Regions from separate parts of the Homo sapiens genome. Here region 1 is linked to region 2. Evidence: fine-mapped expression QTL. Tissue or cell type: whole blood. Region 2 holds a variant in brackets; the other region holds the start of a gene. Each region is shown on its reference strand, or each on the opposite one.

Evidence for each region. PIP is the estimated chance that this variant, and not a neighbour inherited with it, causes the effect.
Region 1: it holds the start of DEDD2, and the variant in region 2 is the best candidate, but not a certain one, in a credible set for the expression of DEDD2 in whole blood (TOPMed, PIP 0.66).

The regions. Positions count from the first base shown.
Region 1 is chr19:42,215,554-42,219,943 of GRCh38, reverse strand. DEDD2 (death effector domain containing 2) reads left to right here and starts at 2,267. Exons shown (of 5, transcript NM_133328.4): 1 at 2,267-2,312; 2 at 2,899-3,264. The coding sequence starts at 2,937. RefSeq lists enhancers at 156-1,031, 1,032-1,908 and silencers at 2,680-2,779, 2,790-2,849, 2,931-3,136.
Region 2 is chrX:53,201,876-53,206,262 of GRCh38, reverse strand. It overlaps KDM5C (lysine demethylase 5C), which reads left to right. Exons shown (of 26, transcript NM_004187.5): 13 at 4,290-4,387. Among named protein-coding and RNA genes, the nearest start is that of MIR6894, 5.1 kb to the right of the region's middle. The variant C/G (reference allele first, on the strand shown) is at 2,411.

The DNA of each region.
Region 1 (4,390 bases), not on the chromosome of region 2:
CTCCGGGCCTCTGTTTTACTGGTGTGAAGTGAGCTTGAGTCACAGCCACCTCAAAGATTGTTTAGGGGATTGGATGATATCACACATGCACAGCGCTCATACACTGTAGGCGCCCACTACAACCCACTTAGCAAGACAGAATCCTTCACAGTTTGTTAAATTGCTTTCCTATTCTCCCTACTCTTCGTTTGATTTAATGATAGTCACTTACCAGGCCCCCTTGTGAGTTTAGCCCAGGACTATGCTTCCGTAGCTTACCATTGCCATCCATTTGTTTCACAAGTAGGGAAACTGAGGCCCAGAGAGGGGAAGGGATTTCTTGGAGGGTTTGTTTGTTTGTTTGAGACGGAGTCTCACTCTGTCGCCCAGACTGGAGTGCAGTGGCACGATCTTGGCTCACTGCAACCTCCGCCTCCCGGGTTCAACCGATTCTCCTGCCTTAGCCTCCCGAGTAGTTGGGATTACAGGTGTCCACCACCACGCCCGGCTAATGTTTGTATTTTTTAGTAGAGACGGGGTTTTGCCATATTGGTCAGGCTGCTCTCGAACTCCTGATCTCAGGTGATCCACCCGTCTCGGCCTCCCAAAGTGCTGGGATTACAGGCGTGAACCACCGCGTCCGGTCTTGTTTGTTTGTTTGAGACAGAGTTTTGCTATTGTTGCCCGGACTGGAGTGCAATGGCGCAATCTCGGCTCACGGCAACCTCCGCCTCCAGGGTTCAAGCGATTCTCCTGCGTCAGCCTCCCGAGTAGCTGGGATTACAGGCATGCGTCAGCACGCCCGGCTAATTTTGTATTTTTAGTAGAGATGGGGTTTCTCCATGTTGGTCAGACTGGTCTCGAACTCCCGACCTCAGGTGATCCGCCCGCCTCGGCCTCCCAAAGTGCTGGGAATGCAGGCGTGAGCCACCGCACCTGGCGTTTGTTTGTTTCTTGAGACAAAGTCTCGCCCTGTGGCCCAGGCTGGAGTGCAGTGGCACTATCTCTGCTTACTGCTCCCTGGTTCAAGAGATTCTCTTGTCTCAGCCTCCCAAGTAGTTGGGATTTCAGGCGCGTGCCACCACATCCGGCTAAGAACAGACAGGGTTTCATCATGTTGGCCAGGCTGGTCTCGAACTCCTGGCCTCGTGTGATCCGCCCACCTCGGCTTCTCAAAGTGCTGGGATTACAGACGTGAGCTACCGCGCGCAGCCGATTCTTTTGAATTCACTGCTACAGCTCAGGCAGAGCCAGTACTGGGCCAGTGCTAGGCAGGACCCAGATCTCCCGACTCCCAAGAGGAGTTAATTGCGGGGGTGGGAAGAGGTCCAGGGAGGGGACTTGTCTCAAGTACATGCAGGTCCTGACCTTGAGTCACCTAAGTGGGGGGCGTGGCGACCGTCACACCCAAGGCCCCGCGGTAAGGGGACACGCATACACCACAGCCTAGACTCCCTGACAGACCCTCTCTAGTTGTTGCAAGTTAGGGAGCGGGTATCTGGGCGACCCTGGAGGGCAGAGATTGGAAGGGGTTACGGAGGGGCCGTTTTGGCTCTGGGTGGAGACATCTGACTGTGATGGGGGTCGTGATGGACGCCATCGAGATGTACACAGTCGGAATGGAGGGTTCTGTTGCCGCTTGGAAGGAGGTATCCGTCCTGAACGTGAGATGAGGGAATTCTGGTTTTGATCAGGGGAAGGAACTTATAGACTGCGGGGGTGGTGGTGGGGGGGCGGGATTTCCATTTGGGATCACGAGAGAGCACAGTTGAGATGTAGATCCCTGGTTGTCACTAGAAGTGAGGGACAATCTAATGGAGGAGTGCCCAGGACCAGATCATATAAGGCCTGGGAGTTTACTGGGAGACGGGAAAGTAGTGATTGTGTTACTTTGCCACGGGCAACTAGGGGCAGTGGTGATGTGGGCGTCTAGCTCGTGATCAGGAGGGGGCTGTAGTTTATGAGATGAGTAGTTACAACTACTCGTGACGTGGCGCTACATGGCCCCGGTGGCTTGAGTCACGGGCAGGAAGTAGGGACCTGGAACCGGGTACCAGATACAGCCCAAGAGGCGGCGTGCTCTCGCTCTGCGCAAGCGCAGCACTCGCGAACCAAGATGCTTCGGTTGGGGGCAGGTCAAGCGGCCCAGGAAGGGCGGGGCTTGGAGGCCTCGTTCTGCGCATGCGCCGAAGGGGCGTGGCGGTCGCACCTGCGCGAGTTGGGGGAAGGAGGAGGGGCGAGGTGACGCAGGCGTAATAATAGAGAAGGTGCCAGAAAGATCCAAAACAAGTGGCTGCGGCCGTCGCCCAGGAGTCATCGGACGCCAGAATCTGGTGAGGATCCAGAGAGGCCTAATGGTGACTGGTGGCGGGTAGACAGGACCACCTGGGCTCTGGGGAGCGGGCGGGGCCGCCCTTGCAGGGCGAGGGGGTCGGGTTCGGACGGTACCACCTGTGTGGAGCAAAGGGGCTGCCTGGGTCGCTCCTCTGTGTAGGGGGCAGAGGGTCACTTTCGGGAGGTACCACTTGCGTAGAGCCGGGGGACTCATCAGACGGTACCGCTGGACGGAGAAAAGGGGCTCGTCTGGGCAGTCCTACCCAGAGTCAGGGGCAGTCAGCAGGGAGCCCCGGGGTGGGCCCCGAGGCTTGTTTGGGCCGCATCGTTTGGTCAGGTCCGGAGGCGAGCTCCGAACGTAGCACGGTGGTGGGGGCAGAAGCCGAGCGGGCTCCGGCGTCCCGACCTGTTCTTAGGGGACCTCGGGCGGGACCATTCCCTCCCGGGGGAGGGGGAGGCCGAGGCGGTTGGGGGTGCGGGAGCGGCCCTGCCCGGCGCGATTGGGCGGGGGAGACGCGCTGGCGGTGTGGGGTTCGGGCCTCCGCGTCGCTGACCACTGCCCCCTCCCCGCTGTGTGGGTTCTAGGCCGGGTTCTGAGCTTGTTCCGCCTCCCTCCCCCGGGAATGGCGCTATCCGGGTCGACCCCGGCCCCGTGCTGGGAGGAGGATGAGTGCCTGGACTACTACGGGATGCTGTCGCTTCACCGTATGTTCGAGGTGGTGGGCGGGCAACTGACCGAGTGCGAGCTGGAGCTCCTGGCCTTTCTGCTGGATGAGGCTCCTGGCGCCGCCGGAGGCTTAGCCCGGGCCCGCAGCGGCCTAGAGCTCCTGCTGGAGCTGGAGCGCCGCGGGCAGTGCGACGAGAGCAACCTGCGGCTGCTGGGGCAACTCCTGCGCGTGCTGGCCCGCCACGACCTGCTGCCGCACCTGGCGCGCAAGCGGCGCCGGCCAGGTACGGTTGAATGGGAGGGTGTCACACTTCCTGGGAGGAAAGGGCCTGGCTCCCGCTGGGCCTCCCTGGTGCCCTGATACGGACAGTGCCATATCAGGCAGCTTATGTCCCATTCTGCTACTCTCTCTTCCCACAATATCAATGAGCAACATAAGAGGAAGAAAGCATGGCTTTGGGAATTTGGCCACATCAGTGATGATGATTTTGGCCACTGTTTACGGAGGGCTTGTTTCATGCCAGGCACAGCTGTCAGCCCTTCATATGAACTAGTGCCTTATAGTCTCCCAGTAATCTCACAAGGAAGTCCTGTTACTGTCTTCACTGTAACCAAGAAAATAACAAGTTCAGAGAAGTTAAGCAGTTTGCACGTATAATAACAATCCTGTTTGCTGGGCCTAGGAGGGATACAGGATGATGGAGCTGACAAGGTGTTTGTTCCATGAAGTTTAAGTTTAGTGGGGGCAATCAGATAATAAGAGAACTTATTTTTAGACGCTGTTGTAGGAAGACTAAAAGTAATGGAATAGAGAGAGTCAGGAGAGCAGCAAGGTGAAGGGAGGCTTTGCCCTGAGGCTGCACTGCCAGCCATGCATAGACCCCAGGGGAGAAAATCCCAGGGAGCATCCAAGGCCTGAGGTGGGAATGAGTTTGGCATCATCAGAGGCCAGTGTGGCAGGAGCAGAGGGGACCCAAGCTAGGGAAGAGAGGGAGGTAAGAAGTTATGTCATGAAGGGGCTTGCAGAGAACGTAGCTGGGAAGTGTGGGAGCCAGGATTCAAACCTAGCCAACTTGTCCCCAGAGTTGATGCCCTTAATCCTTGTGAAGGAAGTGCTCCTGGAGGATAGCAGCCTTCACATGAGAAGCTGGGAGGGGTTCAGGCTGCCGGTAGCCGTGTGCATGAATAGACCAAGCCTTTGTCTGGGTTACTAAAGGGGCAGTGGCTAGTTTGGGGAGGGGGGATTATGGCCTTCCCTGACCCAGAGTAAGCCCACAGGATTTAGATAAGCAGGAGAAGGACAGCTCTAGGGAAGAGCTGACAGCATTTTTGGATATCTATGTCTGAAGATCACGCTCTAGAAGAGAAGATTTGGGGAGCCTGCACAGAGGCCTGCTTACTCCTTGGGGA
Region 2 (4,387 bases):
CTTTTCTGGACAGTTCATAAAAATGGAATAATATGTGGTCATTTGTTTCTTCTCTCACTTAGCATGTTTTTGGGGTTCATCCACATTGCAGCATGTATCAGAACTTTATTCCTTTGATGGCCCAGTAATATACACCAGTTGATGAACCTTTTGAGTTGTTTTTACTTTTTGGCTATTCACAGTTGTCATTTTTAACAGCTGCAGAATGTGAGGAGAACTTTTCTAAATAACCACATAGGAAATAGTAAAGTGACATTGCCAGCATCAGGGTGCAGGGTGAGACAGAGTTATGAGCATCAAGTTCTACTCCTGGCTCTGCTACCTGAGGCTTATCTGAGACTTAGTTTTCTTGTCGATAAAATTAAGGCTGGCATAGTAAGACCCCTTCTAATTAATTAATAATAAATAAAACTAAGCCTGGGACTAGATCATTCAGTGAATGTTGCTAGAGCTCATTCTTTGTGCAAGGCCTCTCTGGTCAACACTCAGAAGGCAAATAACCCAGTGCCTGCGTTTGTGTATGCATAGCTGAGTGCTGGACAGAGGAGTAAATAAGTGGAATAAAGCATTAAAGGTGCTGCAAAAGAGCAACAAACTAGGTCATTTAGGAAGCGGGGGTTATCAGGAAAGGTTTTGTAGGAGCAGTGATCCCTGAAAGAAGAGTAAGAGTTTACCTGTCAGAGCTGTGGCTTAATCATGTGGGCATGGGGATTCCAGTGAGAGGCTCTCAGCTGAGGCATTACATGGTCAAATTTGCTATTTTTGGAAGATAGTTCTGGCAGTTAGTAATTGAGGCCAGTGCAGTAATACAGGTAAGAAAGAAATGCTGATGTTGCCTCTAAGTAGAGATAGATTTGAGAAGAAAATATGACGGAGGTGGGAGCTGATGCATGGTCCAAATAAATGTGGAGATATGTTTATGAATGGGAAGATTTGATATTGTTAGGATGTTAATTCTCCCCAAATTAATTTAGACTCCTGGCAGAGGAATCATTGGGTTGAAGGGTTCTTGATATACATTAGCAAATTTGTTTTCCAGAGAGTAGAATGTATTTATTCCCTTACCGGCACTGTACCTACTTCACTGTGTCTTCACCAAAATTGAATGTTTATCTTAAAAAGCTTTGTGAGACTTCTCAGTAAAGATGACAGATTAAGCATACACATGGCTACTTCCATTCTGTACTGAAACTCCACAAAAATTACATAAAGGGATTTTTTAACGTGAAAAAAATTACAGAGATGGAGAATACGAGAGAGGAGACAATGATAAAATTCTTGAAACTAGAAAACAGATAGATGAGAAAACTGAAACATAAGCCACTACTGAGGACATCTTGAGAACCAGCCCGATTCATACCTCAGAATCCCCCAAAGATTTGTTATCAGTGGCACCAGGCATTCTAGGGGTAAAGATGGATGGGGTGAAAATAAGGATTGGTTCATGTCTGTATAAGAAGCTGTGAGGGCCGGGTGCAGTGGCTCACGCCTGTAATCCCAGCACTTTGGGAGGCCGAGGCGGGTGGATCATGAGGTCAGGAGATTGAGACCATCCTGGCTAACACAGTGAAACCCCGTCTCTAACAAAAATACAAAAAATTAGCCGGGCATGGTGGCGGATGCCTGTAGTCCCAGCTACTCGGGAGGCTGAGGCAGGAGAATGGCATGAACCCGTGAGGCGGAGCTTACAATGAGCCGAGATCACACCACTGCACTCCAGCCTGGGCGACAGAGCGAGACACCGTCTCAAAAAAAAAAGCTGTGAGATACCCTCCCATGCTGGGCAGCTAGAAATGTCTAGTCACTCTAGTAAAAGACTGAAGATTTATTTCTGAAGAGGTTAAAACAGAGTCTCTGGTTTAAGGTCTCCTAGGTACAATTGAAGGTGGAGTTATAGGGAATGTAATTAGGATTTATCATACTGGATGCTGAGGTTCCCAGCCATCATTCTCCACTTGGCTGTTAGAACACTGGCTGCCAGGCCTTTTTTCCTACAGGCAAAAAAAAAAAAAAAAAAAAAAAAAGGATTTTCTTTGGGGAATCTGACTGGCCTGCAAGGAAAGACCTGGAGTTTCCCAAACTAAATGGCTTAGCTAGATCACCCTACAGTGAAGCTCACAGTTGACAAGCTTCATCTGTGTACTCAGAGCTTCCATTTAGCTTTTTAATCTCTTCCTCTTAAATATAAGCAGGCAGCCACAGATTAACAACTGAGAGGCCAGTGCGGTGCAGTGGCTCACGCCTGTAATCCCAGCCAAGGTGGGTGGATCACCTGAGGTCAGGAGTTTGAGACCAGCCTGGCCAACATGACAAAACCCCGTCTCTACTAAAAATACGGCATAGTGGCGTGTGCCTGTAATCCCAGCTGCTTGGAAGGCTGAGGCAGGAGAATCACTTGAACCCGGGAGGC[C/G]GAGGTTGCAGTGAGCCGAAATTGCACCACGGCACTGTAGCCTGGGCGACAAAGTGAGACTCTGCGTCAAAAAAAAAAAACAAAAAACTGAGGAAACCCTAAAAAATCCCCCAAAAAACAGAAGCAACTTGGAGATACAGAGGCTAGGCAGGGAGAAATAAACTTCAAAAGAAAGGCATATACTGTAAAAATGAATGAAGACCAGAATACTGTTTAAAAAAATAGCATACCGCAAACAAAGTTATGATAGCAAAAGTGAAAAATGTAAAAAGTGTATGTTTTCCACTTTTGAAAGATGAATAGTTGAGGAAATCTCCCAAAAAGTAGAGTAAAAAGATGGAAAAGGGTAGAAAAAATTAGGGAATTTTTCTAGGAGGTTCAATATTCAAATAGGAGTTATGAAAAGAAAATAGATGAAAACTGAGAGGATGAAATCATTAATGAAATCACTCAAGAAAATTTCCCTGAACTGGAGAACCGATTTTCCAGAGTCAATGGGCCTACCCAGTACATGAGTGAAAAGAAATTCATACCAAGATATATCCTGTAAATTTCCATGTCAAACACTGAGACCAGAAGAATCCTATAAGCTCGAGAGAGAGAGAAACAGGTTTCAAATGCTTATCAAGCATTAGAAATCAGAATGGCTTCGAACTTTTCAACAGTAACACTAGAAGATCAGAGCAGTGTGCCTTTAAAATTATTTTCTGAGTCAACAACTATGGGAGTTTTTAAAAAAAGGATTTTTGCCGGGCGCGGTGGCTCACACTTGTAATCCCAGCACTTTGGGAGGCCGAGGCGGGCGGATCACGAGGTCAGGAGATCGAGACCACGGTGAAACCCCATCTCTACTAAAAATACAAAAAATTAGCCGGGCGTGGTGGCAGGCGTCTGTAGTCCCAGCTATTCGGAGAGGCTGAGGCAGGAGAATGGCGTGAACCCGGGAGGCGGACCTTGCAGTGAGCCGAGATCGTGCCACTGCACTCCAGCCTGGGCGGCAGAGCGAGACTCCGTCTCAAAAAAAAAAAAAAAGGATTTTCATCTTAGAATTCTATATACAGTCAAGTGTGAGAGTAAGAATAGAGACTTTCTTTAAAAAAAGAAAAGTAGGTTCTTCACACCATTTCTCAGGAAACTGTTGGAGGATGTTCTTAAGCATAGCAAAGGAATAAACCAAGAAAGAGGAAGACGTGGGATCTAGGAAATAGGAGATCTGTCACAAGAGAGTGATGATCCAGGGAGGACAGCTGGTCCAGATTGGGACAGATCAGAAGGTTGCATGAGACTGCTACAGAAAGATGAAAATTGATAGGAAAAGAGATTTAAATATTGGTCAGAAAATTAGGGATATATGCATAAAAAACTGAGCAAATTGAGAAACAGGAGGCTGTTTTTAACATAGTCTAGAAGCATGTTATTTAAGGTAGTTATAATCAACGCCAAAATAATCAGAAGAGGTGGAAGTGATTGGCTGTGGGGAAGGGAGAATGGCAAGGCTGGCTGATTTTATAACAGATCTTTATAGAGCCATTTGACTCTACAAACTGCATATATAACTGATGAAAGTAAATAACTAAAAAAGCTTGTCCAGCTTGATTAAAAGTGATATTTATAATTTTTGCAAAAATTACTAAGGAAGTTGGAATATTTTGACAGATATATTTTTTAATCTCAAATCTTCCTATCATCTCAACACACATCAAAACCTTGAGAGCAGAGACCAGTGGTCCTTCCTTTCAGAGTTGGAGAGTCTGGGATTCTGTTGTCAGACTGTGTTCCCTGAGGCTTTTCTTTGTCTCCTTAATTACCTTGCACTTAAGTCAGGTCTGTATACAGGAAAATCTCTATCTCAACAGCCATGGCCTTTTGTGTTCTTCAGGTTGTCCGCACAAACCAGTGTGCAGGAGAGTTTGTCATCACCTTCCCCCGTGCTTACCACAGCGGCTTCAACCAAGGCTACAACTTTGCCGAGGCTGT